4 linked regions of the Homo sapiens genome follow. The protein of the gene in region 3 interacts with the protein of the main gene of each other region in a pairwise test. Each region holds a gene or a part of one and is shown on either strand. Other genes may lie near its edges. The genes, in order: CYBC1, ASGR2, BET1 and KCNJ6.

Region 1 (6,443 bases), on a different chromosome or scaffold from region 3:
TGTGAGGAGTGGTGCTGGCTGTACCTCAGCAGCTGGGGCCCACCTTTTTTGTGACACGCCACAGCCTCCTGTGTGTTTTGCATGACACGCTGTGTTGTAATTTCTTTGTGCACAGTCTTCAGGCCTCACCACGTGCTACTGGAGTAACACCCGTGTCAGTTATGGAGCCTCACACAGCAGATGTGTCTAGTAAATACTGTGAATAGCGTATACTGTGTTTTGCTTTTGTTTTCTTTAGTAATGAGGTCTCGTTATGTTGCCCAGGCTGGTCTCAAACTCCTGAGCTCAAGCGCTCTTCCTTCCTCGGCCTCCCAGGTAGCTGGGATTACAAGTGTGTGATACTACGCCCAGCTATACTGCATTATTGAACCAGCTTCCTGGCTGTTTCCCCTACTCTGAACCTGGTGGTCTGTAACCCCTGACCACAGCTGTTCCTACAGTGGGAAGGGCCTGCTCATCAGGGGCTGTGGCTCCTGGTCCCGCTGCACCAGGGAGGTGGGGTCTTACCGGGATCAATAGGCAGGCAGTCACTTTCTCTTCATAGGAATCTTGTCGATTGGCCTGGCTGCTGCCTACTACAGCGGAGGTAAAGCACCCCCCGCCCCACCCCCCCATGACTGTCTCAGCTGTTTGGAAAACAGAGAAAAGAAGGAAAAACTGTCATTTGTGACTGTCCATGGGGCGGCCTTTAGGATCGGCACCTCTGCCCCTTGATTGCTGGCGGGCACCGCGCCCTCCATGCGCTGCTGTTCTTCCGCACGCCCATCCTGCCCAGCGCTCAGCCCACATTTCACTTCTTTTTTTTTTTTTTTTGAGACGGAGTCTCGCTCTGTCACCCAGGCTGGAGTGCAGTGGCGGGATCTCGGCTCACTGCAAGCTCCGCCTCCCGGGTTCACGCCATTCTCCTGCCTCAGCCTCCCAAGTAGCTGGGACTACAGGCGCCCGCCACTACGCCCGGCTAATTTTTTGTATTTTTAGTAGAGACGGGGTTTCACCGTTTTAGCCGGGATGGTCTCGATCTCCTGACCTCGTGATCCGCCCGCCTCGGCCTCCCAAAGTGCTGGGATTACAGGCGTGAGCCACTGCGCCCGGCCACATTTCACTTCTTAAGTCTTCTGTGTTTTTGGGTCATCAAATATTCCCGGAGAGATGCTCTTGAGGATCTAAGATCCAGCTGTGGGATGAGGTGTACTTCCCACCCTGCCACAATCACTGGGCCTGCCCAGACGGGCAGAGGCCCTGTGCGCCCCACCTGCCTCTCTCACGTGGACTCTGGGGGTCAGAGCTGGGTGGGGTGTGCCGCGTGTGGGTCCTGAGTGGCCAGGGCAGGGTCAGCAGCACAGGAAGCTGCCCAGGGGGTCCTTGCAAGCGTGGGCTCTGGCCAGCGTCTGGGGGAGGCTGTGCTAGGCGGGGCCTCCCGTGGGCATGTCCCTGGAGCTCACAGGCTGGCGCCCTATGCCCATCTCCAGATAGCCTGGGCTGGAAGCTCTTCTACGTCACAGGCTGCCTGTTTGTGGCTGTGCAGAACTTGGAGGACTGGGAGGTAAGGCCGGCTCGGGTGCGGGACAGAGTCCAGGGCTGTTCAGCTCCTGGGTTTTTTGCAATGGGAATGAAAGGAGGAGGAAGGGCCCTGGGTGGCCTAGCGCCTCCCCGTCCTGAAGCGTTGGTCCCTGCTTGGAGGTCTCCGTTCATCAGGACATGGCCCCTGCACTCATCTGGGACCGTTCTTGGCCAAGGAATTCCCCGAAGGCATTTTTCTCTTAGAAGCTCTCCATGACTATCTTCACCAAAGTGCTTTCTTCCCAGAGTTGCCACAATGGGATGCGAGTCAGCTTTCCCCGTGGCCGGCCCTCCCACCTCGGAGCCCCTCATGAGTCCTTTCAGCCTGGCCCAGTGCTGCCCTCTGACCTCCATGCCCTCGTTTGCTGGTTCCACTGCCTCCCTGCACTTGTTTTGCCTGCAGGGTGGAGCAAGCGCCTGCTGCACCTGCCCACCTCTCCATTTCCCAACAGGAGTCGGGTTGGCTGCCGATATCCGGCTCTGACAGAGCAGCACCTGTGGCTTCAGGGGTTTGGGTTCTGACTGGGAGGGTCCCCAGCCCCCCTTCTTGAGTGTCCACCCTGGTGAGGGTGGGGGTGAGGCCCCAGCGGCCACGGGGCCCCCGTTCCTGGAGGTTCATGGTGGTCAGTGCATGTCGGTTTCCAGGAAGCCATCTTCGACAAGAGCACAGGGAAGGTTGTTTTGAAGACGTTCAGCCTCTACAAGAAGCTGCTGACTCTTTTCAGAGCTGGCCACGACCAGGGTGAGTCGTGGGGAGCGTGGGGACATGGGACACGGCCACAGAGGCGGCGCACTTGGGCGTCTGGGTGACTCACGGGGCCTAGAGGGGGGCCTGGAAGTGCCTTTGGTCCAAGCTCACCTGCTTGGTGACCAGGGTTGTGTCCTGCCCGCTGGAAGCAGGATCCCACGGATACGCCCCACCTGCTCACCTGCTCAGCAGGGTCCTAGAGCCTCCTGGGTTCTTTAGAGGTTTGGCCCCTGGGGAGAGTGGGAGGAGCAGGGGTCTGAGGAGCAGGGGTCTGGCAGAGCAGGGGTCTGAGGAGCAGGGGTCTGGCCCACCCGGGCTCGGGCAGCCTCTGTTTAGCTGCATTCTCCCGTCTGCCTGGCAGCCACTTGTCCGCAGGTGCAGTCTGGCCCCAGCGGCAGGTCACAGGACGGGGCAGGGAGAGCCATGGCAGCCCGTGGGCGTTCTGGAGTGGGGCCACCTGGCTTCTTGCGGGCCTTGGCGCTGCTCCAGCTTTCCTGTGGGTTCTACTGGGCCTGCAGTAGGGGCTGGATGGTCCGAGGAACTCCCCACCCTTGAGCCTGGGCACTGGCCCAGCTGTGGTCAGTACCAGTTTCCTGTAGATGCTGCCGCACAGACAGACAGAGGCCCCGGGGTCCGGCCGCCCATGCATAGCCCCAGAGGGGACAGATTCTGGCGACCAGAGTTGCTGGGCAGTCTTGGGTTTAGTGCCGCAATGCTGCACTTCTGACAGGCTGCTTCCTGGATCCCTGCAGGGACCTGGCCAGGGCATTGGCCCCAGGTCACCTGTGGCTTTGGGGAGAGCAGTTGCAGGGCTGGCCTGGGCTGTGGGAGGCAGCTGTGCCGTTTTCTGACAGCCATTGGGACCGCCCCAGTACCCGAAGAGGTGGCTGCCCTGAGTTGCCACGGGAAACTGCAGGGTGGCCCTGGCTCAGCAGCCAACCTTGGGGAGACCTGGAGGAACAGTGCAGTGTAAAGATGGCCTCGCGCTGAGCGGGTCCCCGCAGTCGGCACTCCCAGGAGAACCAGCGGGCTGTGCATGTGACCCGCCAGCCTGCACCGCGGGCACGTCCTTCCCACCCAGAGGACCCTGCACTGCCTTCAGGGCCACAGCAGTCCTCCGGGGCCCAGCCTCAGGCAGGAAACAGCAAATGCTTTTGCTGCCAACCAAGTGTGGCTGTCGCTTTCGATGATGCCAGTGGCGCTGGTGCGACTGCCGGGCAGCATGTGTGGGCGGGGATGGCTCGGCCACTGACCGTCTCCCCGCAGTGGTGGTCCTGCTCCATGATGTCCGTGATGTGAGCGTGGAGGAGGAGAAGGTCCGGTACTTCGGGAAAGGCTACATGGTGGTGCTCCGGCTTGCGACGGGCTTCTCCCACCCCCTCACGCAGAGTGCAGTCATGGGCCACCGCAGGTAAGGCTGTGGGACTTTGATCTGGCCGGAGCTGCAGCCGTAGCAGGTCACTCCCGTTCCTGACTGCCCAGAGCTATGGGGCAGCTGGGAGAGGAGATGAGTTTGTGGACGGGACACAGAGGGGCCCACGGGAAGCGTGTGCAGGCTCAGGGGCAGCCCCACTGTGACGGGGAGGCTGGGAGCAGGCCAGGAAGTGCTGGGTCCAGTTTGGGAGCTCCAGGGTCTGCGGGAGGTAGGTGGTCGAGGAGGAGACTGCTGTGGGGTCTCACGGTGCCCTATGCCGAGGTGACCTGACCTTCCTCCCGTTGCCGGCCTCGCCCAGTGATGTGGAAGCCATCGCCAAGCTCATCACCAGCTTCCTGGAGCTGCACTGCCTTGAGAGCCCCACAGAGCTGTCTCAGAGCAGCGACAGTGAGGCCGGTGACCCTGCAAGCCAGAGCTGACAGCCCCACTGTGCCTGAGCCCGTGCACCGCCCACAGGACCCATGGCACATTCCCGGTGTGCCTGAGCCCGTGCACCGCCCACAGGACCCGTGGCACATTCCCGGTGTGCCTGAGCCCGTGCACCGCCCACAGGACCCGTGGCACATTCCCGGTGTGCCTGAGCCCGTGCACCGCCCACAGGACCCGTGGCACATTCCCGGTGTGCCTGAGCCCGTGCACCGCCCACAGGACCCGTGGCCTTGGCTTCAGTTGGTGCCTCCAGCCGAGTTGGCCTATTGCCTGCTCATGCTGCTGCTTGCACACTGCATGAAACAGCAGGCCAGACCAGGACATCCAGACTTTCTCCATCGTGAGGCCTGGGCCTGCCTTTCTGCAGCCGGAGGTCTCGCCAGCCCTGGACTCCTGCTTTGGGCCACAGCAAGACCTCGGGCGAGTGGAGAGGCGGGGCCAGGCCGGGCCCTTGTGGGTGCTGATGCTGCATGTTGTCCCCGACACAGCGTCCTCTCCCTGGTGGACATCCCCAGCGGTCAGGTGCTTCCCCAAGGGCAGTGAGGGGTGAACATCCAGGGCCTACCTGGCTGTGCACGCTGCAGCCACACTGTGGAAGCTGCCCCTCCCCGAGGACCCGCCTCCCTTGCTGATGCCAGGATCTCGGCGCATAGACCACTCTGCCCCAGCGGTCGTCACAGAAAGGTCTCTCTGTTCCTCACACTCAGCTTCAGCATAAGCTGTGAGGCCAGAAAAAAGGTCAGCTCTTCTAGTATCGTGCAGTGCTTAAAAACCGGGAGCTCCAGCCGGGCGCAGTGGTTCATGCCAGTAATCCCAGCACTTTCGGAGGCCGAGGTGGGAGGATTGCTTGAGGCCAGGAGTTCAAGACCAGCCTGGGCAACACAGCAAGATCCTGTCTTTGTAAAAAAACTAACCAAACAGGAAAAACTGGGAGATTTTCTGCAGAAATTGAGTTCCAGCCTCTCTCGAACCTGGGAAGACCTGGCAGGAGGGGGCTGGGCTCTCGGCTACAGACTTCTCCCCACCCCGTAGGAGCTGAACGCCAACCATCCTGACCCGCCAGTGCTCTTGGTCTCCTGAGTGTACCCAGGTCCTCCCAGGTGCGGTGTGCACCGAGCGCGCCTGGCCTGATGCCCTGGCCTGTGAGCTGGGGACTCCTGGGCCCTGTGAGCCCCTAGGCGGCAGGCCCAGGAATGGCTGGGTAGGACAGGGAACACCTTTGCCCCACGTCTGGCTGTGACCTCGGTGAAAGCCGACAGGAGAGAGATGGGACCCTCCTCCTCAGTAGTGGCTGCCAGTCCCTCGTTGCAGGACAGGGTCATCATAACCATAAATAACCCTTCACGTGTCACCTGCAGCTTCCACTCTTTATTTCCAAAGAATCAGTGTCACACATGCAGATCACAAAGCGGGTCTCCCTGTGCTGCTTCCTTCTGTGTTTTCTAGTCTCTCCCCCAGGGGCTGCCCAGGGCCCTCAGGAACTGAGTGTGGGCAAGACACTGCTGGGCCAGAGGGCACGACGCCCACGTGGGCCCGTATTGCCCAGGCCATTTGGCAGTGCAGAGCCCCCCCAGCCTCCAGCAGGAGCCCCCTGGCATGAGCTCTCCCCTCAGGGGTCCTGAGCAACGTCCCTGCCAGGGCTGGTGGGTGGCAGCGGGGGGGCAGACACCTCGCTGAGGTCCTGCAGCAGAGCTTGCAGCCGCTGCAGGCTGGGGTGCACGTTTTCCTCCAGCCACTCCTCCACGGCATCCGGGTAGAAAGCCAGCTGCAGGGCAGCCTCCAGCTCCTGCACGAGGGTGCTCCACTGTGCCAGGAGGCTGCAGGTGAGGGCGCCATGAACGCACAGTCTGCACACTTGGGACTTGCCCTCAGCCCCATGGTCAGTACTGCCCTGTGCCTCAGTTCACCTGTGAAATGGGGCTACTGACCCTACCTCATCGGCATGTCGGGAGGAACAAGTCGGTGACAGCTGCACATCTGAGACCAGAGGGCCTTTTACAACTAGGGGCTCACCCTCTGCTCTCTAGTTGAGGGACATGTCAGCAACAGCAGCAGTTCTCAGGGAACCCATGGCTGCACGGCCTATAAGAGCCCAGGGCCTCACCTGAGCGCTGCGGGCTGGATGTGCTGAACCATGACCGGGTGGATGAGCTTCCGCTGGCGGTGGTAGGGGCTGAACCAGCCAGTGACATACCTGGGGCAAATCCACATAGGGGTGTGCCGCGGGCTACCAAGGCAGCCGTGGGGCGGCTTTGCAGTAATACAGAAAAT
Region 2 (7,896 bases), on a different chromosome or scaffold from region 3:
CGGCCTGGGCAACAGAGCGAGACTCCGCCTCCAAAAAAAAAAAAAAGAAAAGAAAGAAAAGAAAAAACACACTGGATGGAAATAATGGAAGATGAGAAATGCGTAAGAAAAATTTAGGGCCAGGCACTGTGGATCACATCTGTAATCCCAGCACTTTGGGAGGTCGACACGGGGGGAATCACTTGAGCCCAGGAGCTCAAGACTAGTCTGGGCAGCATGGCAAAACCCCTCTACATGGCAAAACCGTCTCTACAAAAAAAAATTTTTAATTAGCCAGGTGTGGTGCCACATGCCTATAGTCCCAGCTACCTGGGAGGCTGAAGTGGAAGGATCGCCTGAGCCCAGGAGGTGGAGGCCACAGTGAGTTGTGACAAGCTACTGCATTCCAGCCTGGGCAACAGAGTGAGATGAGAGAGAGAGAGGGGAGGGGAAGCGAGGGAAGGAAAGGAGGGGAGGGGAGGGGGAGGGGAAGGGGAAAATTTTAGTTAACTTAATGAACAGCAATAACTCTATAAAATGAAACACTGGGAGAAAAAAGAATTAAAAAATGGAAAGAGAATGAGTGAGCTGTGGGACCCTTAATACATGCATAATTGAAATCTTTAAAAGAAAAAGGGGGTAGCAGAAAAAAATCAAGTGCTGAGACAAGTGGAAGATGGGCCCCGGTGAGCAGCTGATCAGTGTCAGCTCCCATGATGACGTTCCCCCAGCCCCCACCACCCGGGCTGCTGGAGGGAAATGCGGTGACTTTGCTACATCCCTTCAGACGGTCCCTCACTGGTGTCCCTCAGCCCATTCGCGTGAGCTCACTCTCCCATTAATTTCAGAAATCCTGGCCTCTCTCCAAGCCTCCTGCTCAAACTCTAAATTCTGTCACCCTCAGAAGATTCAGCAGCATCCCGTATTCTCTCTGAGTGTTCACTATGTACCGGGTGCCGTGTGGGCACTGGAGTTGCAGAGGAGAGTGAGGCGGACAGGGCCTCTGCCTGTGGGGACACCGCCTGGTGGGAAGTCCAGCCAGCCCCCTACAGAGAGAGGAGATGCTACTGGTGTTCCTGAGTGGTCCTCGGGAGGGACCTCCTATCCCTCCTGTCCCCTGCCCTGCCCTGCCCAGCACCGGCCCTCCCTCGGTTGGCCAGCCTCAGGAATGAGGAGTCCCTCATTCCAGCCCAGCTAACCAATCCCCTTCCTAAGCTCCAAGCCCCTGCTCCTCCTGCCTCCATGGAACCCGGCTCCACCACCAGCACCCACACACCTGACACTCCTCCATTCCTGGCTCTTGCCCTTCTGCCTAGCACTGCTCAGATCTCTCTCACCTTAAAATCTTTTCCCACCAGCCTGGGCAACATAGCAAGACCCCATTTCTCTAAAAAATTTTTTTTAATTTGCCAGGCACAGTGGTGCACACCTGTAAGTCCTAACTACTTGGGAGGCTGAGGTGGGAGGATGGCTTGAGCCCAGGAGTTCGAGGTTGCAGTGAGCTATGATCCTGCCACTACACTCCTGTCTCTAAAAAAAAAATGTCCAAGATACTTAGGTCCTTCAGTCAAGATTTATTACAGAAGGATCCAGGGAAGGGTCTTGGGAGATGAGAGGAGCAGGGATCTTCCAGGATCTCTCTGTGCTCACGTCCCCCACCCATCCCAACTCACCCCACCTCTACACACACACACACACACACATACAATCACATACACACACTAACACACACACTCACGCAACACACTCACACACACAACATACATAACACACTCACAACATACACACACAACACACACACTCGCACAACATACACACACGCACAACATACACAACACTCACACAACACACAAACATACATACACTCACACAATACACACACACAACACACACACAACATACACAACGTACACACACACAACATACACACACTCATACACAACATACATACACACAACATACACACAACATACACACACTCACATACACAACATACACTCGCACAACATACACACATGCACAAGATACACACACAACACACAACATACACTCACACACAAGATACACACAACATATACTCACACAACATACACACACAACACACTCTCACACACAACATACCCTCTCACATACACGACATACACACACACAACATATGCACGCTCTCGCGCACATATACACACACACAACATTCACTCACACACACACACAGAGTCCCAGCTGAATCTGCATTCCTCATATGCACATACGTGCACACGCACATACGAGGCACATGTGTTCTTGGGTTGGGAGGAGAAGGGCAGGCAGTTATCTTCCAGATCTCCCCACACCTCTGGCACATGCCTTTCCTGGGGTCCTGGGGTAGACAGGAAGGTGAGGTGAGGGAACAAGCGGGGGTGTCGGGCCCTCCTCAGTCCCTGTTCACAGAGTGGGTGCGGCAGAGACCTCAAAGGGACAGAGCAATCATGAGCTGAGACAGAGGGGGAGCAAAGCCGCAGAAACTGCACACTTGCCTTTCAAAAATGGATTTCCTCTCCTGGGATTCAGCCTGCGAGTGCCTGGCCCCTCACCTTGATGGAAAGGATGGTCATTTTCCTCCGAGCTCAGCTGCTGGATATCTTGAAAGTCCTTGGCCATGATGGGGCCCGGGCTGGAGCTGGAGCTGGAGCTGGGCTGGGCTGGGCTGAGGTTGCTCTGAGGGCTGGGGCTGGGGCAGAGGTGCAGATTCACGTGGAGGTTGATGGTGGGATGGAACGCAGGGTCGGAGGGGTTCGGGGTGGTGGCCTGGGTAGGATCTGAGGTTGGCAGGGCGTTTGGGATGAGGTTTGAAATCCCGCTGGGTCCTTTCCCTTCTCAGGAGACCGCTTGGGCCTTGACCTGGCCAGGAGACCCCTCCCCACGCTCATGGACCCGACCACCCACAGCTTCCCATGGGGTCCTCCCCATCCCTGAACCAAGGCCTCCTTGTTCCCAAGCATCCTCGTCCCAGTTGCCTCCCCAGCCTCAGTTACCTGTGAAAGGTGTGGAGAGCGGACACCTGGCTCCCGCAGGCAACCCTGGCCTTGGCCAAGGAGGGGTTAAAGCCAGGAGAACTGGGGCAGGTGGAGCTCACAGGGGAGAGGAGAGTGGAGGAGGGGCTGGTCCGGGCAAGGCCTGCACTGGAGGGTCTGAGTGTCCAAGCTCTAACCTGGCACCTCCTGGCCTGGGACTTTGGACAGTAAACAGAAGAGGAAACAGAGCTGTAACTCATTTGTGGGGTGGGGGCAGGGGACGGGGCTATCTCTGTTCTTATTCCCAGAGAGGGGGGTCCCCTGGGCTGCGCTCAACTCCACACGCCACTCACCCCACTCATTGCACCATTTGGAAGGGGTGCCAGGCCAGGAGGGGCTGGGGTGCAGTTTGCCGTTTCCCTCTCTCCCTCCCCCTCTCACTTCCTGCCTCCGAATTTACCAGAACTGTGGGTGTCTCCAAATATCCCTGACCAGGATCACAGCGACCAGTTCTCTACTCTTGCCCAATCCGGCATCTGAACCACAGACCCCAGCTTCCTGTGGGCTCGGCCACCAGACTCTCAGCTCTGGCCCAACTCGCTTCACTCTCCTGGAGAGTAAAGCCTCTCAAATCCAGAAGCTTCAGCAGGAGGAGGAAGGGGCTTTGCAGAAAAACAGCTCTCCTCGCAGGAGGAATCCAACCTCAGAGAGCCCCGTCCGGCCCAGACCCTGCCCCAGCCCAGGCAACACAAACACTGTCCTCAGGCCCAGCCACTGCCCTAAATTCTCCAAGGTGTTTCTTCATTTATCACAGCACAACACCCCCACGAGGCAGGACTTCTGTTACTCCCATTTCACAGGGTTCGGAAGCGGAGCCTCGGAGAGATGAGGCAACTTGCTCTAGGTGGTGGCCCAGGTGAGTAGAGAAACTGGCAAAGCAAAATGGAGTAAAGAGGGGAAAATAACATCATAACAAAAGGTCTGGCCGGGCACGGTGGCTCACGCCTGTAATCCCAGCATTTTGGGAAGCCGACGTGGGTGGATCACCTGAGGTCAGGAGTTCGAGACCAGCCTGGCCAACATGGTGAAACTCTGTCTCTACTAAAATACAAAAATTAGCCGGGCGTGGTGGCAGGGGCCTGTAATCCCAGCTACTCAGGACGCTGAGGCAGGAGAATCGATTGAACCTGGGAGGCGGAGGTTGCATTAGCCAAGATTGCGCCATTGCACTCCAGCCTGGGCAACAAGAGAGAAACTCCATCTCAAAGAAAAAAAAAAGAAAGAAAGAAAAAGAAAAGAAAAGGTCTTCATGGTCCTACGAGGAAGACTGGCTTCCATGAAGCAAGGAACGTGGCTGACTGTCTACACTTGCGCTAACAATAGCTCGGGAAAGAAAACACAGTTTTTGTGCATGATTTTCTGACCCTCACCAAACTTGGGCGGATGGCTACGGGCAGGGTTTCTTATAAAGCTGCTCGTTTCCCCGGGTGCCGAAAAGGAATTCAAACAGAGGCCTTTTCTGTTCTTGTAACTTGCTGACCCACATGGGAAGTAGCCACCCCCCCAGTACCCTGACATTCCCACCCAGCCACCAGGCAGCAGCAGCCGCTGGGCTCTCTGACTGCAGCCCACAGCGAGAGACGAATTTCATGCTGTGATCCAGAACATACACACAAGCACCCGCACACACAGGTGCATTTGTATGTGTTACTTTCTCCTGGATCCCCAGTGCCTGCCACACAGTAGCTGCTCAACAAGTATCTACTGAGTGAGTGAGTGAATAGAATAATGCGTTTGGAAATACACGGTTGACACTAAAGTTTGATGGGACAATGCTCACCTTACTACGTGCCTTCTGTTGAGTTTCCCAGTCCATTAATGGGTCACAACTCAAAGTCTGAACAACACTGCTGTGAAGCCCCCATCTTAAGGGGCATGTGGATTTAGTCCTGAGATACAGGTAAGAGCTTCACAGATGGATTGTCTACTGCATGTCAAGCTTTGCCAACTGCCAACCAGGGATGGGGCCATCCTCATTGGCCACCCCTTTGACTGAACCAATTCCACGTTTCAGGGCTTGTCACTTACACCCCCACTCACGGCACTACAGGGAGAGAAGGGACAGAGAAAGCCAGACTCATCTGCGTCCTTCTCTTTCTCCCTATTTGAAAATCATTTTAACTTAGAAGTTAACATGTACTTGGACTATTTCTGAAGTTTCCATATTGTTGGAGGTTTTCTGTTTTGGGTTATGGAATCCTATTTTCTTTGATTGATTTTTTTTTTTTTTTTTTTTGAGACAGAGTTTCACTCTTGTCACCCAGGCTGGAATGCAATGGCGCGATCTCAGCTCACTGCAACCTCCACCTCCCGGGTTCAAGTGATTCTCCTGCCTCAGCCTCCTGAGTAGCTGGGATTACAGGCATGCACCACCACGCCCGGCTAATTATTTGTATTTTCACCATGTTGGCCAGGCTGGTCTTGAACTCCTGACCTCAGGTGATCCGCCCATCTCAAACTCCCAAAGTGCTGGGATTATAGGCGTGAGCCATCGCGCCCGGCCTTATTTGGTTGATTTTGATTTGGGGTTTATTTGTACCTCAGACACAAAGGTTAGATTGGTCATATTCCTTACTTCATGACACTAGGTCTTCCTCAGAGGTCTGAGCTAAACCTTTGTCCTGTTTCGTTCTTCCCTAGCTCCCATCCTGTTTCCCCTCACTAATTCTATACTCTCTACTCTCTATAGGCAGCCAGAAGTCTGAGTGCCCTGACAGTCCCCACAGATGGTGCCCATCAATTTCTCCCCTCACCACATGTGCAAGTCACACCACTCAGCCAGGGGTAGAGTCTGTTTCCCCTCCCCTTGAGTCTGGGCTGGCCCTGTGACTTGCCTTGACCAACAGAAAGCACTAGAAATGACACTCTGCCAGTTCTGGGCCTGGACCTCAAGAAACCTGGTAGCTTCAGTTTTCAATCTTGGAAGTCAGTCACCATGCTATGAGGAAGTCCAACTATCCTGCCAGAGAGAGTCCTGGGGGATAAGACAGCACATGGAGAGAGAAAGAGGCCACACAGAGGTGCACTGAGGCCCCAGACATGTGAGCAAAGTCTTCTGGGAGTTTCCAGGGCAGCCCAGTCACCAGCTGATTGTATCCAAGTGTTTCACTCCAACCAATACCCCGTGGACCGCCCAGCCTAGCCCTGCCCAAATTTCTGACCCAGAGAATCTTAAGAAAAAACAGTTGGTTTAAGCCACTGGAGCTTTGGGGTGGTTTATTATGCATCGGTAGATAGCTGAAACAATATATATTACTAAATATGTAGGTACCCTTATAAAATATGTGATGGGGTTTGCATGTCTATCTGTTCTGTATTTACATACACAGAACTTTCATATATCTCATTTGTTTCTGATCTTTTTCACTCAACAAGAAATTTTTTAGAGCTATTTGTATTGCTATTTGTTACAATGGATTGTTACATTGCTATTTGTTTATCTGGTTTGTTGCTATGAACTGCTGCACAGTATTCAATGGTGTGTATCCATCACAGTTTATTTCCCCTAATAATGAACTCAGGTTGTTGCCAACAACTATCACAATTAACATGACGACTGATGTCCTCATCGTGTTCCCATGTGGACCTAGGTGAGAATTTCTCTTGAAACTGTATCCAGGCCAGGTATGGTGGCTCAGGCCTGTAATCCCAACACCTTGGGAAGCTGGAGTTGGGAGGATCACTTGAGGCCAGGAGTTCAAGGCTGCAGTGAACTATGATCGCACCACAGCATTCCAGCCTGGGCAACAGCAAGACCCTTTCTCAAAAAAAAAAAAAAAAAAAAAAAAGGAATGAAAGAAAAGAAAAGAGAAACGAAGGAAAGGAGGGAGGAAGGAAGGAAGGAAGGAAGGAAGGAAGGAAGGAAGGAAGGAAGGAAGGAAGGAAGGAAGGAAACTATATCCCCGAATGGTATTGCTCATTCGCAGAGTATTGCCATACCTAATTCCACTCAGGACTGCCAGACTGTTTTCCAGAATGGCTCTGCCAGTTCACACTCCCACCAGCAGTATACGAGGGTTCTCTTTTTGGCTTTGTCGCTTGATATTATTAACATCGCAATTGTTGCCAAGCTGATGCCATATCCTTGTTCTTTTATTTTGCATTTCTGGCTAACAGTGGGTTTGAACATTTCTTCATCGATTTATTAATCATTTGGGTTTCCTCCTGCATGAATTGCCTTTTCATATCCTTTACCAGTTTTTCTATTGGCTTTCCTGAATTCACTTTGTTGATAAGCCAGAATTTCCTGTATGTTCTACTTGTTCAGAAAACGAGACCTTTTGAAAGTTAAAAAATATATACATGTTGTTAACTCCAGAAAAATTAATAGAAGCTCTGAAACATAAAATTTAGAAAATCTTCCAGGAAAAAAAAAAGACATAGGTTTTTTTTTTTTAAATGATAAAAGTTAAATTGGGAGAAATTATTTTTTCTCTGGTCTCATGCTACTGAATATATTTCCCACTAGGGAAACTAGACAATCTCCAGACTCCCTTTCTCTCTTTTTTTTCTTTCTTTCTTTTTTTTTTTGAGACAGAGTTTCCTTCTTGTTGCCCAGGCTAGAGTGCGGTGGCCGCGATCTCGGCTCACTGCAACCTCCGCCTCCCGGGTTCAAGTGATTCTTCTGCCTCAGCCGCCTGAGTAGCTGGGATTACAGGCACTCACCACCACACCCAGCTAATTTTTGTATTTTTAGCAGAGATGGGGTTTCACCATGTTGGCCAGGCTCGTCTCGAACTCCTGACCTCAAGTGATCCGCACGCTTCGGCCTCCCAAAGCGCTGGGATTACAGGCATGAGCCACCGCGCCCCGCCCAGACTCCCCTTCTTAACCCACTCTTCCTCAGGGGAGGAAACTGACTGATTGG
Region 3 (7,776 bases):
CCCACTCCTTGAGTTCTTTTATAATAAAACATGTGGAGAGCTTCATGGATAGTGTGTCATGGATAGTGTGTCAGCAGCAAAATTCAGATAGTACAACTCTCTTCTGTTTGGAAAATACTTCTTCAATATTTTGTTGTGGTTTTTGTGGTGGTGGAGATTGCATAGGTATCTGCTGCATATAAAGTACTCATTAGGTACAGGGAGGATATGGAAGCATGAGATACTGTCTTTGCCTTCAGAGAAGCATATGATTCCATTCTGGACAAAGGTATGCACATTCAAAGTTCAATAACAGTGAACTCAGATTCTTTTCATTAATTAGTTCACATCATGTATTCATTGAGTGTGCCTTACAGTGTGTATGTGTTTGTAGGTTTATGGGGGGACATACAGTGTTGAGTCAAACAAACTTATTCTCTTCCCTTATAGTACTGTACAGAGTGCAATATTAGTGTTACATACAATCAGAGCTGTAAGAAATCAGTGAGAGTTTTGCTTCATAGGGAAAATGAAATTTCTATTGTGCCTTGAAAGAAGTTCCTATTCACACCTTGACTGTCCTTCAGTGATCAGTGCTGTTACCTCCTGTCACTGCTGCTGCATCTGCTCATTGAGCATATGGAGACTTCTAGTTTTGTTTGTTTTTAATAGATGAGGTCTTGCTGTGTTGCCCAGGCTGGTCTCAAATTCCTGGCCTCAAGTGATCCTGCCTCCCTCAGCTTCCCAAGTAGCTGGGATTATAGGTGCAAGCAACTGTGTGCAGCAGGCTCTGAGACTTCTAGTTTTGATATCATTCCTTTCCCCACATTCTCAAGTCACTGTTGAATCTGCTTTAATATCTGTCCAATCTAATCCCCATAATCCAGATCTTCAACCGCTCTTTTGGCAAGCAGTCTCAACCTCTTGGGGCTCCGTTTTTCTGCAACCTCAATATTATAAGCTTCCAACTATAGATTAGTCCAACCATCCACCTTCTCCTGGACTAACTCAGGCCGATGAACTCTTCTGCAGAAAAAAACCACACACCTGGGACGATTGAAGCCACCGTAGTATATTGCCTCAAACAAGTTTGTTTTATCTTTAGTAATCCTGTGCAGTCCCGGTCCCTTTCCTCCATCATTCTCCTTACTGTATATTCTGAATGATCACCCATTCTTCAGCAGATAGCCCGTTTTCTCCCTTTACTGAGAAAATTGATGGCAACAATTATGTTAAAAAAAAGTTCACGCCTGTAATCCCAGCACTTTGGGGGGCCGAGGCGGATGGATCATGAGGTCAGGAGATCGAGACCATCCTGGCTAACAGGGTGAAACCCTGTCTCTGCTAAAAAATACAAAAAAAAAAAAAATTAGCCAGGTGTGATGGCGGGCACCTGTAGTCCCAGCTGCTCGGGAGGCTGAGGCAGGAGAATGGCCTGAACCTGGGAGGCGGAGCTTGCAGTGAGCCGAGATCGCGCCACTGCACTCCAGCTTGGGCGACAGAGCGAGACTCCACCTCAAAAAAAAAAAAAAAGTATAGTTAACTAACACCCTGAACTATGCCGTTTCCTGTTAATCGCCCAACATATTTATATATGTATTCACTAAGGCCCACTCCATCTGTTGTTTGATAGCCTGATGACTATGAAGTACTATATTAGGCAGGGAGGTGTACATTCTTATCCCTTAGAGTTCCATAAAAGTAGCACCTAGAAAGAACAGTGGATCTGATACATGGTAATTCTTCAAATATATGTTGAAGAATAAATGAATCTCCCTCTTGACTCTCAGCTAGCATTCTGCATAAGTTATTGTGTCTCTTTCCTAGAGCTTCAGTTTGCCCCCTCCCTGCTTTGGCTCTTTCCTGTCCAACTGTCTATTTAAGAGAAAGAGATGCCAGTAAAGAACCCTCGCCGCTATGAGCTCCCGTCCTTCTGTATTAACCACTTTTCCCTTCCTCTTCACAGCCACGCTTTTTCAATGGGTAGATGATGTTACTGCTTTTAGAACTTTCATTAAAATATATGTTTCTCTTGAGCAGGGAATGTATCCTGAATATTCTTGTGTATTAGTACCTATTTTTGTATCTTCTGGACAATCAATAAGCAATCCAGAAATGTGTATCAAAATGAACTGAACTGAATATTCTTTGGTTAACAGAGAGTAATGGAAAGAATTGGTCTGATCTCTGTTTGGTTATTTATTTTTTAAATTCATTTGGAGTATGAATATTAGAGACATATGTGGTTTGCAAGGCCCTCCAGGGGTCTTTTTCAGTTCTTTCCTAACTAACAGTGTTTCAAAAGTGGCTTCTCTAGAACCACCTTTGTGACTCTGATCCTTGCAGGTGAAGGAGTACCTCCTGGCAACTATGGGAACTATGGCTATGCTAATAGTGGGTATAGTGCCTGTGAAGAAGAAAATGAGAGGCTCACTGAAAGTCTGAGAAGCAAAGTAACTGCTATAAAATCTGTAAGTATATAACAAATATTATATGTGTTTTAATTCATATATTTCTATACATATAATTATAAACTATATATTCTTATTGACGTCATCCTAAGGAATTCATTTACTCAGATACTGTGGTTTTGTGAGGTCAAAGTACACTCAAAATTTAGACTGTGCTTTGAGTAAGTTAAAAAATGTGGCACATCAAAAGATAGATTTTTTTTAATACTTAAGAAAAATCTCCAGCTCTTTTTTGTATACTGTATGCTGTCTGCTGTAATGTCTCAAACAGAGCTGTCCATCTTCCACCCCCAAGTAGCTCTTCTGCTTTTTTTAATCTAGCCTTCTAAGCTATAAATCTTGGTCTTTCTTATTTCTACCTTTGTACTTCATTTCAGTCACTGAGTCTTACACTGTCTTTCTGATGTTTCTATCTTTGCCTTTCTATTTCTAATACTATCCCCTGGTTTTCTTTTCTTTTCTTTTTTTTTGAGATGGAGTTTTGCTCTTGTTGCCCAGGCTGGAGTGCAATGGTGCAGTTTTGGCTCACTGCAACCTCTGCCTCCTAGGTTAAAGCAATCCCCCTGTCTCAGCCTCCCAAATAGCTGCGATTGCAGGTGCCCGCCACCACACCCGGCTAATTTTTGTATTTTTAGCAGAGACAGGGTTTTACCATGTTGGCCAGGCTGGTCTTGAACTCTTTATCTCAGGTGATCCGCCCGCCTTGGCCTCCCAAAGTGCTGGGATTATAGGTGTGAGCCACCGCACCTGGCCTATCCCCTGGTTTTCTTAGTTGAACTATTGGAAGAACATCTTAACCTATCTGTTCCTGTTTTTTTGCACATTATGATCTGAGCTATATAATCATTGCCACAGTCCTCGTTTAGAATATTTTAAAACTTGCATCCTGCACTCCCAGAAGTCTTCAGCGTCCTTCCATGATTTAATAAAGTTCATGCTTCGTAGCTTGATTAAATCAGATAGATCTTTCAAAAATTGGCCTTAGCTTTTGAGATCTTATCTCTCACACTTCCAGAATCTGTATGTGCTTCCTGCTAGACAAATTACACTTTGTGTCCTCTGTATGCTGTCACTTTCCCACCCCCATATCACACTATCCCTTTGCCTTAAGCCTCCACTTCCTTCTTAGATCAACTGAAGTGCTGCTTATCCACATCCGCCCCACTTCATTGCACCCCCTCCCTCCAAACTTTTACCTGATTACCACATCCAAAAGTAACTTTTCTTCTTATGAACATAAGACCATTTGTGCCATTTCTGTAGCACTTATTCATAGTGATTTGCATTGGCATTATTTGTATGTAAAAGGAATTTACCAGAATGCAGGTTTTCTATTGTACTTACTTTATATTCTATATAGCACTTAGCATAATTCCTTATCAATGGTGTTGAGTAAATTTGTATTGAACCAAAGAATTACACGAAGATGATTTTAATAATATATGTGATTGATACTGCATTATAATGAACATGACGTTCACTTATAAAGCATTCAGTAGAAGCCCATGTTGATAAAACTTAATTGGTATTTCAATATAGTCTTTGGAAAATCGAATTACATTCAGTCTGGAGACCTTTAGATTTTGAAACAGGATTGTTTTCAAAGTCATATTAAACTAAAGTTGATTTATGAACTAAGTAATATTGTATAATGTTAATTTTAAAAATACAACACTTGGAAGGACTTAAGAATTAAATGCCTTTAAAAACCCCCCCAATGTAGATAATTTAGATTACTTGTTAGAAGAAAGTTGTGATGTCCTGGAAATATTTTTCCTTGGCATGAATGACAGTGATAGAAGTTGAGTAATGTGGGCAGTCTAGCTTTATAGTTACTTTATTATCTCTGAGTTGTTAAATCTGGGAGGAAAGCTCATGTTCTGATCTATAGAATTCTAGTATGGTTTTGTATCAGTATTATCCCATGTGCTTTCACACAGATGAAGAACAATATTTGCAGTGATTTACCAAGATTTTCAGTAGATGATTCTATTTATTTAAATATCTTGGAAGTGAAGCCTTTGATGAATCTGTCCTATAAAGTATTAGATAGATTTTGGTTTGAATAGTTGTCATAATTAGCTATAGTATTGTATTTTGTAAGCTATGGCTCTTTTCTTCAGAGCTTCAGGAAGTAAGTAACACTAATATTTATTTTTTTCAATTTATTATCATATTTTAAAGCAAAAACCTTTAAACTAAGGAAAAATCAGTTTAGACATATTTAAAGTAATGTAACATTTCATTAGGAAAATATTAAATACTTCTGTCTAGATTTGAATTGGTTGTATGGGTACTTCTAGATCTTTCAAAATGTAATAAGGTTGGGTACTAGGCTTAATTCTTGGTTGACGAAATAATCCGTACAACAAATCCATGTGACATGAGTTTAACTGTATAACAAACCTTCACCTGTACCCCCAAACCTAAAATAAGTTAAAATATATATATATAATTTATAAAATATAATAAATAAAATGTAAGAAGGAAATATACAGATATTTGTAGGAATTTGTAGCTTTTGTAGGAATATAATAAAGATATAAAAGCATACAAGGTTAAGAGAATCAGAGAGAAGTAGTACATACCAAATTAAAAGATGGAATTGAATATTAAGATGAAATTAAAATAAAGAGGAAAGAAGAAATGTCCATAATTGGGAGGAGTAGAAATTCCAAATTTATTTTTTATTGATCTTGGTAGAAAAAGTATCAGAAAAAGAGAGTTTATGTGTCTAGAAGACCGTTTCATTTCAGAAAATGTGTATGCTTAGAATGACATTATTTTTACTTTATAACACTTGAATACTTTTATGTGAGTAATCCTGTGTATACCTTCTTCTTTATAGCTTTCCATTGAAATAGGCCATGAAGTTAAAACCCAGAATAAATTATTAGCTGAAATGGTAAGTGGTTATGATTTTAACTTTAAGAAATTTGATCTAATATTCGCAAATAATAGAATTTCAACTTTTATTCATTTTGAAATACAGAGATCGTAAGTCCTTGATTCCCGTCCATTTGTATCTAATGTGTTTGGAATAACTATAAGGTTTATTTTGCCATGCTTTTGCATTTTTCATCTCGTCTTACGCATGTAAGTGGGAGGAACAAGTGGAAGCCAATATATCTTTAATCCTGTTTTTAGAATGATTGTTAAAAACAAGACAAATGACTATTTTGAGTAGTCTTAGAAGTCTCAATAGTAGAGACTACTAGTAATTTATTAACCAAGCAATCAAAAGGCACTTGATATCCAACCAACTAAATGTCGTTCACTTAATGGATACTTACTCTTTTGCTTGATTTCCTAAGGATCACTTATGAAAAAAGTGCTCATACATTTGAACAGCCCAGAGCCTTTTCTCTCTAACAACATATACCTTTTCTTGTTAGAGTCCCCTTCCATTTGTTAACGTTTATCTTGAATGTCAAGCTTCTCTGAACCTTCTCTGGTTCCATGTGCTTTTAAAATTGTGCTATTCAAAAATGAATTTGGCATCAAAAGCAATGTTCTTGCTAAGCTTGTGCGCTATAATAAGCTAGGGACCTCTTTAAAAATGTATATGCCTGATTCTGTCTTTAAATATACTGATTTAGAATTTCGTGAGGAGGGATCTAGATGTAAATATTTTGAAAAAAGCATCTCTGGTGATTCTGATGCATAACCATGAAAAAGCATCTCCGGTGATTCTGATGCATAACCATGGTGAAGATCCATAGATCTAAAGTATATGAGCCACATAGACACTGAGCTATACAAAGGATATTTATTATTATGCCAGGGCTTTTACATCTCAGGATATTATAATTTCTATGAAAGTATGTGTAATATTTCTAGTCCCTACCTAAGCCTCTCTCATCTTTAGGATTTTCCAGCTATGTTTTAATACGTTAGTTTTTCCCCATCCATATTTATAGTCCTTATCACATTTTACTACCTCTATATGATATTCTCTTAACTTAATAGACTCTACTTCAAAGTCAGCTGTCTAAACAAAAGGATATTAAAAGTAAAGGTCCAAGGCCTAGCATGGTAGCTCACGCCTATACTCCCAACATTTTGGGAGGATGAGGTGGGCGGATTACCTGAGGTCAGTAGTTCAAGACCACCCTGGCCAACATGGTGAAACCCCATCTCTACTAAAAATACAAAAAAATTAGCTGGGCGTGGTGGCGTGCGCCTGTAGTCCCAGCTACTTGGGAGGCTGAGGCAGGAGAATCACTTGAACCTGGGAGGCAGAGATTGCAGTGAGCTGAGATTGCACCACTGCACTCCAGCCTGGGCAACGAGCGAGACTCCGTCTCTAAATAAATAAATAAGTAAATAAAAGTACATTTAACTGCTAACCGTATTACATTTTGGATGAAATCCTCTACTTGGGTAGCAGTCAACCATTTGACCTTGGAGAGCAATGGCACAACAAAAAGTGGGGAAAAAAATCTGTGTGATAATGCACAAAGTACTTACATTTATTGTTAATTTTTTTTATCCACATAATTGGAATAACACCTAAATAGTTTTGAGTTGTTGAATTACTCTGTGGAGCTGAAAGAAGTGTTTATTGGACAATGAAAGAGCTTTTTATTCGCTGAGAGTATTACTGTATTTTGCATGGAGAAATCAGGCTGATTATCCAAGGTTATCAACAGGCTCCTGAATTGATTAAACACAAAACTGTCATTACAAATGTACTATGGTAACAGTTATTCAATTACTTGGATATGCATATGTAGACTCTTAGAATCTAACTGTGATATTTTATTTGCCTTTATCTCTGATAGGATTCACAATTTGATTCCACAACTGGATTTCTAGGTAAAACTATGGGCAAACTGAAGATTTTATCCAGAGGGAGCCAAACAAAGCTGCTGTGCTATATGATGCTGTTTTCTTTATTTGTCTTTTTTATCATTTATTGGATTATTAAACTGAGGTGATGCATGTAATTGTGAATTTGGAATTTGTTCCAACTTAATGGCTTGCAGTACCACTTTGATAAAAATCAGCATCAAAACATTCCTAGTGTTCAAATACTGTGGCATTTTCCATTGAAAATTGCTGAATTTTGCTTATTTTATAAATCACATTAGTTAATACAGTGGTCTTTGAATACTGTTTCTTAATGACTCATTTTAGCCCCTATTTTCAGGGGTAGTGAGAGGGTGTGGCTCCACTAATTTCCAGTTTGTTTTTCTATTGTTTGCCAACTGTCAGATTAAATAGCATTATAATATTTTGTTGTAATCATAAATGCAGGTTTATGTCCCATGTAAGGAAACTTAGTGGGAGAGTAACAGAATGCCTGGAGAGCCTGACTCTGAGC
Region 4 (7,776 bases), on a different chromosome or scaffold from region 3:
AGCACCCTGGTCAGCGAGAGGCCAGCCAACCAAGTTTGTTATTTCTTTCTTTCTTTTTTAGACGGAGTCTCGCTGTGTCACCCAGGCTAGAGTGCAGTGGCTCGATCTCGGCTCACTGCAACCTCTGCGTCCCGGTTTCAAGCGATTCTCCTACCTCAGCCTCCTGAGTAGCTGGGATTACAGGCGCACACCACAACACCTGGCTAATTTTTGTATTTTTAGTAGAGACGGGGTTTCACCATGTTGGTCAGGCTGGTCTCGAACTCATGACGTTGTGATCCGCCTGCCTCAGCCTCCCAGAGTGCTGGGATTACAGGCGTGAGCCACCGTATCCGGCCCAGCCAAATTCTTTCTAAGGGTCCTAGGACTGAAGAGGGTGGAGATATAGTTTCCTCTCGGTCTAGAACTGGAAGGAATCAAAACAACACTGGTGAGCTTCCGAAAAGGAGAGAGAGTTTGTTAGCAAGATGAGAGCCAGTGATCACATCTTCAAGCCTGCGTGTGAGCAAGGTGGCTACATTTCCTAGGTTGCAGTCGTAGGAAACCGAGAGGAGTCACTTCTCTTAATACAAACAAGGAAGAAACTGCAGGAGGGGAGGATTTATTACCATTCAAGTTCCATTTCAACATTCATACAGGGAAAACAGGTAAGTCCATCAAGCCCTTCTGCTCTCACTTTACGAGAAGCTGGTCTTTGCCCTGCTCTCATCCTTGGTAGTAGGTCCCCCACCACCACAACTGTCACTGATATGAAGAGGAAAAATAATACAGGAAGGTGACAGTCATATTTGAAATAGAATGCCTGTCAGAGTGCCATCCAGGTGTTACAAGGTATACTTTGAATTGCAGAGCCCAGTCAAGGTTTGGCAACTGGTTGGAAATGTTGATAAAGCTTCAACAATATCCCTGGCTGCTTTCCTGTTTTGTGGATGCACTTGTGCATGAGGTCTTGAGCTGGTTCTGGTTTGTTATTTTTAATGGTAAACAAGATATGATCCTGGTTTTCCTTGCTGGGCTTTCCAAGTGTGACATGTTGTTTCTAAAGATATTGCATGCTGAGCACTCAGGATGTGGTTAAAGCAGTGTGTTTCTACCTTCCAGTCTTTTCAAATGATTGCTAGTGAAGACAGAGCAATCTATTTCAAACCTAAGCAAAAGGATGAGTTATTACACTATTTCTTACATTTCAGTTCCTGATAGGTATTGACAAGTTTATCCATAATTTAGTTTATGAAAAGGTTGCTACCTAAAGTAGACAGAAGAAGTGACACGTGGAGTATTAAACAACGCAGCTGTTCCTTGGCCTTGTTCCATCTGACATTATCAGCAGAAGGGAAGTAGACGTTCATTATGAGGATGAAGCTATACGAGAATATAGACTGTTAGATAAACAAAGTAATGTATTTCTGAGTTCTAAAGTTCAATTTCTCTAATAAATTAAAAAGGGGGGTGGTGTCAATAATCTAGGTATATGAAATTGTTCAGTCAATAATCTTTACTTCTGGTAGTTTCCATGCTCACATATTCAGTGCTTATTCACCGAACTATGACTTGCTTTCTTCCTAGGTGGCTAATTGATTAACAAAGTGTCACTATGCCCTTTTCAGTCAATAGCATACTCCAAAATAATTGGTTTACTCATTTCAAGTAAGATTTGTTAAGGAGAGCAACTTGTGAAAATTCGCCCCCATTCACTTGGTTCCATTTTGCTATTTTAAAAAATCATTTTGATACCTCTTCTAGGTATTGCCTAAACAATAGTTACCTCATCTAGATATTGCCTAAACATTAGTATGTTTTCCTTTGTGTGAGACAGGTCTTTATTTAATACATAGGACTTACATGAACTATTTTCCTTGAGAATATAGAAGGGCTTTTAACTCAGTCTCATATTCCTCCCTATCATCTCAGTCTACCTCTACTTTATAGGGAAAAAAATTAGAATAGTTATTTAAGAAGTTATAGAAAAAATTCATTGGAGATTAAAAATAAAATACCCTTATGGAATCTTAACCCCATTCACTGATTTTCACAGGTAGAAAATGTTGCTGTTCTCAAGGGTTTAATGTTGACCATGTAAACCTTAATGAAAACAAGATAAATGCTCTTTATGGAAAGGCAGGCAGATAAGGTGAAGCTCTTCTCTTTTTCACCAGTTCTTCCTTTATCAAATGATATGTAAGTAATATGGAAATGGAAATGGACCAGAAATAGGCAGAGTAGGAGGAAAGAAGAAAGTGAGGGGAAAAGGCAGTTACTTATTGCTACCAGCTTTAAACTGACAATACTTTTCAAAGTGAGGTTGGTTTTTCTAAGTTCATTGTATTAGAACTTTAAGTTTGGTGGAATTAAGATGTTTAAATTCAGTGAATTTGGATTTATAGCTTATTGAGATGGCATTTCTTGTTTCTTCATTTTATCTTCAATAATTGGCATTTAAGTACCAAAAGATAATTGATTCACTCTGGAGTTTTACAAAATTATTAACTTTGGTAATACCAGTAAGGGGGAAATTGGCAGTTAAGTTGAAAAATCATCAAAACACTTTTGTTGAGTTAGTTTTCTTTTTAATTTTAGTGAAAGTATTTGGAGAGATAGAAGAATAAAATGTAGCTGTTTAGGATAAAAATACATTTTGAAGTGCATTTTAAATAATTATTTCTAGAAATAATTAGGCTCCAATAAAAAGAAGAGATAATCACAATTGCAGTTAGTGCTCTAATGGTATTCTGAATTTCCTCTGGCAAAGTACTAGAATATACATATACTTGCTATCATTTTAATAACATTAAATAATAGTGAAATTATTTTCCTCAAAGAGCGGTCTCATCATTAAAAGAAGAGTCTGTATCCTCTCTAAACTATAGCTTTGATCTAATCATACCTGCTAATCAGTTGTAAATATTCATTTATTTATTTGTTACTAAATTGAATCATTGTTTAAACAAAACCTCAGAGAATGATTTTGTGCAGTGTGCAATGTTCAAATGGTCATTCAGATCTGATTTTATATGGAATGCAGTAAGGCCATCAATCAATTTTCCCAATTACAATGTGTAAAGTTAACCCTAAATTTTAACCAAGTGACTAATTTATGTCTATACAAATGTATCCAAGTCAGATTAAACCCATTATCTCCTTGAGTCTCATGCTTCTCATTTTTTCTGTATGGCTGTGCTTAGGACCAGGAATCATACAGTACTGGTGATTCTTTTAGTGAATAGATTTTGGCTAACATGTATCACCGGTCTTATTCCCAGTCACAGAGATGTGGTTTCCGACATGAAATCCTTACAAAAGGAACCAGAAAGTGCATCTGTGGCTAAAAAGATCCATGTCCTTGCCAACAACTGTTCTGTGGGACTAAATCTGAAGGTATTATATGCAATGTGAGAGACATATCTATAAATTAAGTTTAAATCCTGTGGCAGTTTCCTCTTTAAACTTACAGACATCTACTTTTTTCTTATCCAGGATAAGAATTGATTTTTTTCATGATGCTTTAAATTTCTCTTGTATCATCTAGCAGGAACTTGTGCAAGTTTGACAATGTGCTTGGTAGGCGGTGTTGCTCCGTGATTAAGAGCACAGGCTCCGGTGTTTCTTACTAACTGAATCTGCATCAAGGTCTAGGTGTATCTGTCCATTTTTGCCAAGTTTGGGGCAGTAACAGCAACCCCAGCATCTCAGTGGCTTACAAAACAAAGGCGTATTATTCTCTGGAGCGCTATGCCTCTGCTGGTCAGCTGTGGCTCTGCTCCTGTGACTTCATTCTGGAATTCAAGATCAAGAATTGGTCTGGAACACTCTATCCCAGTATCAGAGGAAAAGGAGACTCCCAAGTTAAGCAATGGCCCTTAACATTTCTGCTCAGACATGGCACAAGTTATCCACTCACATTCCATTGACCGGACAATTCACATGTCACATCAGTGTCAATGATCAATGGGAAGGAGATGTATATTTCTCCCACAGTGAAGCACTGCAAGCCGTGCAGCAACAGGTAGAGACATCTAATCTTTCAGAGAGGGAAGAGAATAATTGGAGGCAATAATATAATCCACTATGCTAACTATGTGACCTTAATCAACTTTATGCCTTGCTTTCCCTATCATAAAATAATAACAATAAGAGTAATAATAACAACATATACCTCAGAGATGTTATGAGGATTCATGTGATAATGTAAGTAAAGTTCTTAGCACAGGCCAGGAGCGGTGGCTTACACCTATAATCCCAGCACTTTAGGAGGCCGAGTCAGGTGGATCCCTTGAGGCCAGGAGATGACTTGAGACCAGCCTGGCCAAAGTGGCAAAACCCCATCTCTACTAAAAATACAAAAATCAGCCAGGTGTGGAGGCACATGCCTGTAGTCCCAGCTACTCAGGAGGCTGAGGCACAAGAATTGCTTGAACCCAGGAGGCAGATGTTGCAGTGAGCTGAGATCACACCACTGCACTCCAGCCTGGGTGAGAGGGAGACTCTGTCTCCAAAAAAAAAAAAAAAGTTCTTTGTGCAGTGTCCAGCACAAAGTAGGCACTTTAAAAATAGCAGATGTTTTTATTCATTTATTGCAATGTGGCATTAACTTCAGTTCTTGATGAGCCTGTGTATACTGTATTAATTAGAAAGTTCTTGAAACAGAAAATATCTAAATCTCACTAATTTAACAAAATAGAAGATTTCTTTCACATAAATCTAATTGGTTGATGCCGTACAAGGACCCAGGCTGAGGGACACTTTGTCATCTTTAGTACATGGCTTCTAAGATCTGCTGAGTGGTGATATCCAACTAGCAGACAAGGAAAGAGGGAGAGTAGATGATTATGTAGAAGATTTTAATGATCCGGGCCTAGAAGTAATGTATATCACTCCTATTCATATTCTATGGTCATACCTAACTGCAAGAGCAGCTGCAAATTGTAGTTCAGCTCTATATCCAGGAGGAGGGAAACTGGTAGGGTGAACACACTGGAGTCTTTGGTATGCATGCCCGATATAAATGTCTGGCAGCAAAGAAATACAGCTAATGTGAATCAGGATAGAGTAAGGCAGAGGAAATGATTTGTCCCAGTGGTGAAAAGATTCCTGGTAGAGACAATATTTCCTGGTGCCCTTGAATCATTCTTTAGTGGTGTATTTTTTTAAAATAAATTAGTTGGGATATGTTGACTTTTGGAGTAGGTGTAGATGATTCTTAACAAAAGAGATGCAAATACATATTGTTTGATTTCTGTTAGCTGATCTGTTAAAGTAGACACAAAGGAGAAAAGCCAACTTCACAACCCATGCTCAAAAGCAATGTTCTAATCTTGACAATTACACCCACATTGTGTCTAAGAATGCTGAAGAATTAGATGCTGTCTTCTAATATCTGGCACTTGCTGTTGACTAGCAATTTGCATTTTGTTTTAAATCCCCTAAATGTCCATAGGCTAGATACATGCTGTAAGTTTAGGTTGAATTAGTCTACTAATAGTCATTGTTTTCCTGAAAATAGACCATGTAATTTGTAAGCAGTGTTTGAGAACCTCTGCTTCCCTCAAGGAGAAAACTTGGAAACTAAGTTCCATACCTTTTCACTAGAAGCAAAAGAACAGCTTTAATGCCAAACTTACAACCTAGAAAAGAGAAATGTCAGGGAGAAATATCTGAGAAGACTATGAGAGGAAGAACCAGAAGAAACAGAGTGGTGATCCATAATACTTCCGGTTCTCTTACATCGTTTCCATTTCCCTAACTCAGATATCACAGCCACATACATTCATGCAGGGGAAAACATTATCAAAATGAAACAGTAAATACCAGTAATGCATGTTAATCCTTCCATGGGGCAGTAATACTGGATTAGAAAACTCTTGACCTCTTCAAATATCTTGCCATTCCAAAGTAAATAATGTCTCATAGTGGAACTTCTGTTTAATGAAGAGAATGTTTTTGAGGACAGGATTTATTTCACTGCCACATTCAATCATTTCAATTTAAAAGGGATATAATCCAACAATCTATGTGCAGAAGGGAATAGGCAGGACAGTACCTGAGTCCAAACCATGTAATATTAGAGTAGATGAAAGAATTAGGAGTGTTTTCCCTGGAGAATATGTGGGGGAGGAGGCATGATAGTTGTTTTCAGGTATCTTGATATTTGAAGATGAAGGAAGGATTATAATTGTTCTGCTGGGCTCTAAGGGATAAAAGTGGGACCCAGCAGTGGAAGCTACAAAGTGACATATTTTGGTTCAATATAAGAAAGCATTTTCAGTAGTCAGAGCGGGGCAGAGGTAATGTGATCTGTCTTCTCTGCATTTACACAGCTCTGAATTCTTTGTCACTAGAAGCATAAAGAAGCTGAGAGAGCTAGGAACTGGGGTTGGAGTGTATGTATTTCAAAGTCTCTGCAACACAGAGCACTTCTAATGGCTATGAGAGAAGCGATGCCCTTCAGGCTCAGTCAACAAATCAGACTGGACCTCACCACTCTATGGGGCCATTGCTTTATGACTGAGGGAGCCATCATTTCTCTATAAAAAAAATGAATCACATTTAACCAAAAATGATATCTCAGTCCCTACACGAACCTTGTGTCTATGAGAGCAGGTCTGGAATGCAGTAATCATATGACTAAGCAGCATCACATGACTAAGAGGAAGGGTACAGGACTCACTGCTCATGGAAAAGCTTTACCCTTGCTTTTTGTTGTCAACACACTACCTTCAGTCAAAAGACAAGGAATGAAATCTCTCTTCGGAGGTTTTTGCATCACCTTACAACATTTTCAGAGCCAAGACTCCATGACGAGTTAGGCAGAGCACACTTCAGATTTTTAGACATCTCTAACGTGCAAAATATAGTGCTACTAACATATAATTCCTCCTCTCAAGAAATCTAGTTTCAATAATGGCAACGAATGGGGTAGATTCCTTCCTCTTCAGCTGTCTCCCAAGGTCTCACCAGTCAATACCCTAAACATATTCACCCTCTTAAATTTTCATTAGCCCTCCTGGGGTGGCTGGGCCCACAGTAGTAAAGCATATAAAGAGAGGGCAGAAAGAGGACGGCAAATAAAGAACCTATGACATTATGTGTTGTCATTGGAAGAGAGGCCGCATTAGGTGGCCCTCTTTTTTAATCAGCACTCAAGGAGTGTTGGGCCCAAGCCCACACTCCACATGTCTCCTTGACTGGCCACTGTTGGGGGTCTCTGTGGACAAAAGGAGGCATCAGAGCTGATGAAAGTCAGCTGAGGTCAGTGGTTCCCATAGTGTGTCCCTGAACCAGCAGCAGCATCACCAGGGAGCTGGCTACAAATGCAAATTCTCAAGCTCACCCCCCGATCTACTGGATCAGGAACCCTGAGGACAGGGCCAATCATCTGCCCATCCCCTCCAGGGATTCTGATGCACTCTAAAGGGTGGGAGCTACTGGCTTAGGTTTTCCTCAGATCTGCTTTAAGGAGGAACCCAGACACAATGCCCCTTCTCACAGCCTTCTTCCCACGATAGAGACCTCCAAGTCCAGGCTCATGCAAGAGCCAGGTAGGGTCACAACTAGAAATGGAATGCCAGAATGCCCACTGCAGAGGCAGATTTAACCTGGACTCAGTGTCTAGGGGGGAAAAACAGCAAAAACAAAAAGCTTTTGGTCCATCAGAAAAAATACTCATGATCACACTAAGTTGCAAAGATTATGAGCACAAAGCAAGGGCTTCTCTGTTATGCAGGTTATTTAAATAAACTGCTTAGTATTTTGGAATTATAGTTAATCCATCCTGAAGTT

What was found.
Region 1: the proteins of BET1 (region 3) and CYBC1 interact in binary tests that used the Homo sapiens proteins (3 or more experiments, as listed by UniProt).
Region 2: the proteins of BET1 (region 3) and ASGR2 interact in binary tests that used the Homo sapiens proteins (3 or more experiments, as listed by UniProt).
Region 4: the proteins of BET1 (region 3) and KCNJ6 interact in binary tests that used the Homo sapiens proteins (3 or more experiments, as listed by UniProt).

The regions. Positions count from the first base shown.
Region 1 is NC_000017.11:82,441,723-82,448,165, reverse strand, and holds the end of CYBC1 (cytochrome b-245 chaperone 1), read left to right. Parts: intron 1-544; coding exon 545-586; intron 587-1,469; coding exon 1,470-1,543; intron 1,544-2,205; coding exon 2,206-2,302; intron 2,303-3,574; coding exon 3,575-3,719; intron 3,720-4,041; coding exon 4,042-4,162; 3' UTR 4,163-5,573; downstream 5,574-6,443. Other genes in the region: HEXD (hexosaminidase D), read right to left, coding at 5,574-5,989, 6,277-6,366. UniProt on the Homo sapiens protein: Functions as a chaperone necessary for a stable expression of the CYBA and CYBB subunits of the cytochrome b-245 heterodimer. Controls the phagocyte respiratory burst and is essential for innate immunity.
Region 2 is NC_000017.11:7,111,625-7,119,520, forward strand, and holds the start of ASGR2 (asialoglycoprotein receptor 2), read right to left. Parts: upstream 3,199-7,896; 5' UTR 3,188-3,198; coding exon of another isoform or gene 2,991-3,187; intron 2,775-2,990; exon of another isoform or gene 2,687-2,774; coding exon of another isoform or gene 2,617-2,686; coding exon 2,493-2,616; intron 1-2,492. UniProt on the Homo sapiens protein: Mediates the endocytosis of plasma glycoproteins to which the terminal sialic acid residue on their complex carbohydrate moieties has been removed. The receptor recognizes terminal galactose and N-acetylgalactosamine units.
Region 3 is NC_000007.14:93,993,844-94,001,619, reverse strand, and holds part of BET1 (BET1 homolog), read left to right. Parts: intron 1-2,325; coding exon 2,326-2,450; intron 2,451-5,298; coding exon 5,299-5,355; intron 5,356-7,234; coding exon 7,235-7,390; 3' UTR 7,391-7,709; coding exon of another isoform or gene 7,710-7,726; 3' UTR 7,727-7,776. UniProt on the Homo sapiens protein: Required for vesicular transport from the ER to the Golgi complex. Functions as a SNARE involved in the docking process of ER-derived vesicles with the cis-Golgi membrane.
Region 4 is NC_000021.9:37,906,100-37,913,875, reverse strand, and holds part of KCNJ6 (G protein-activated inward rectifier potassium channel 2), read left to right. Parts: intron 1-7,776. UniProt on the Homo sapiens protein: Inward rectifier potassium channels are characterized by a greater tendency to allow potassium to flow into the cell rather than out of it.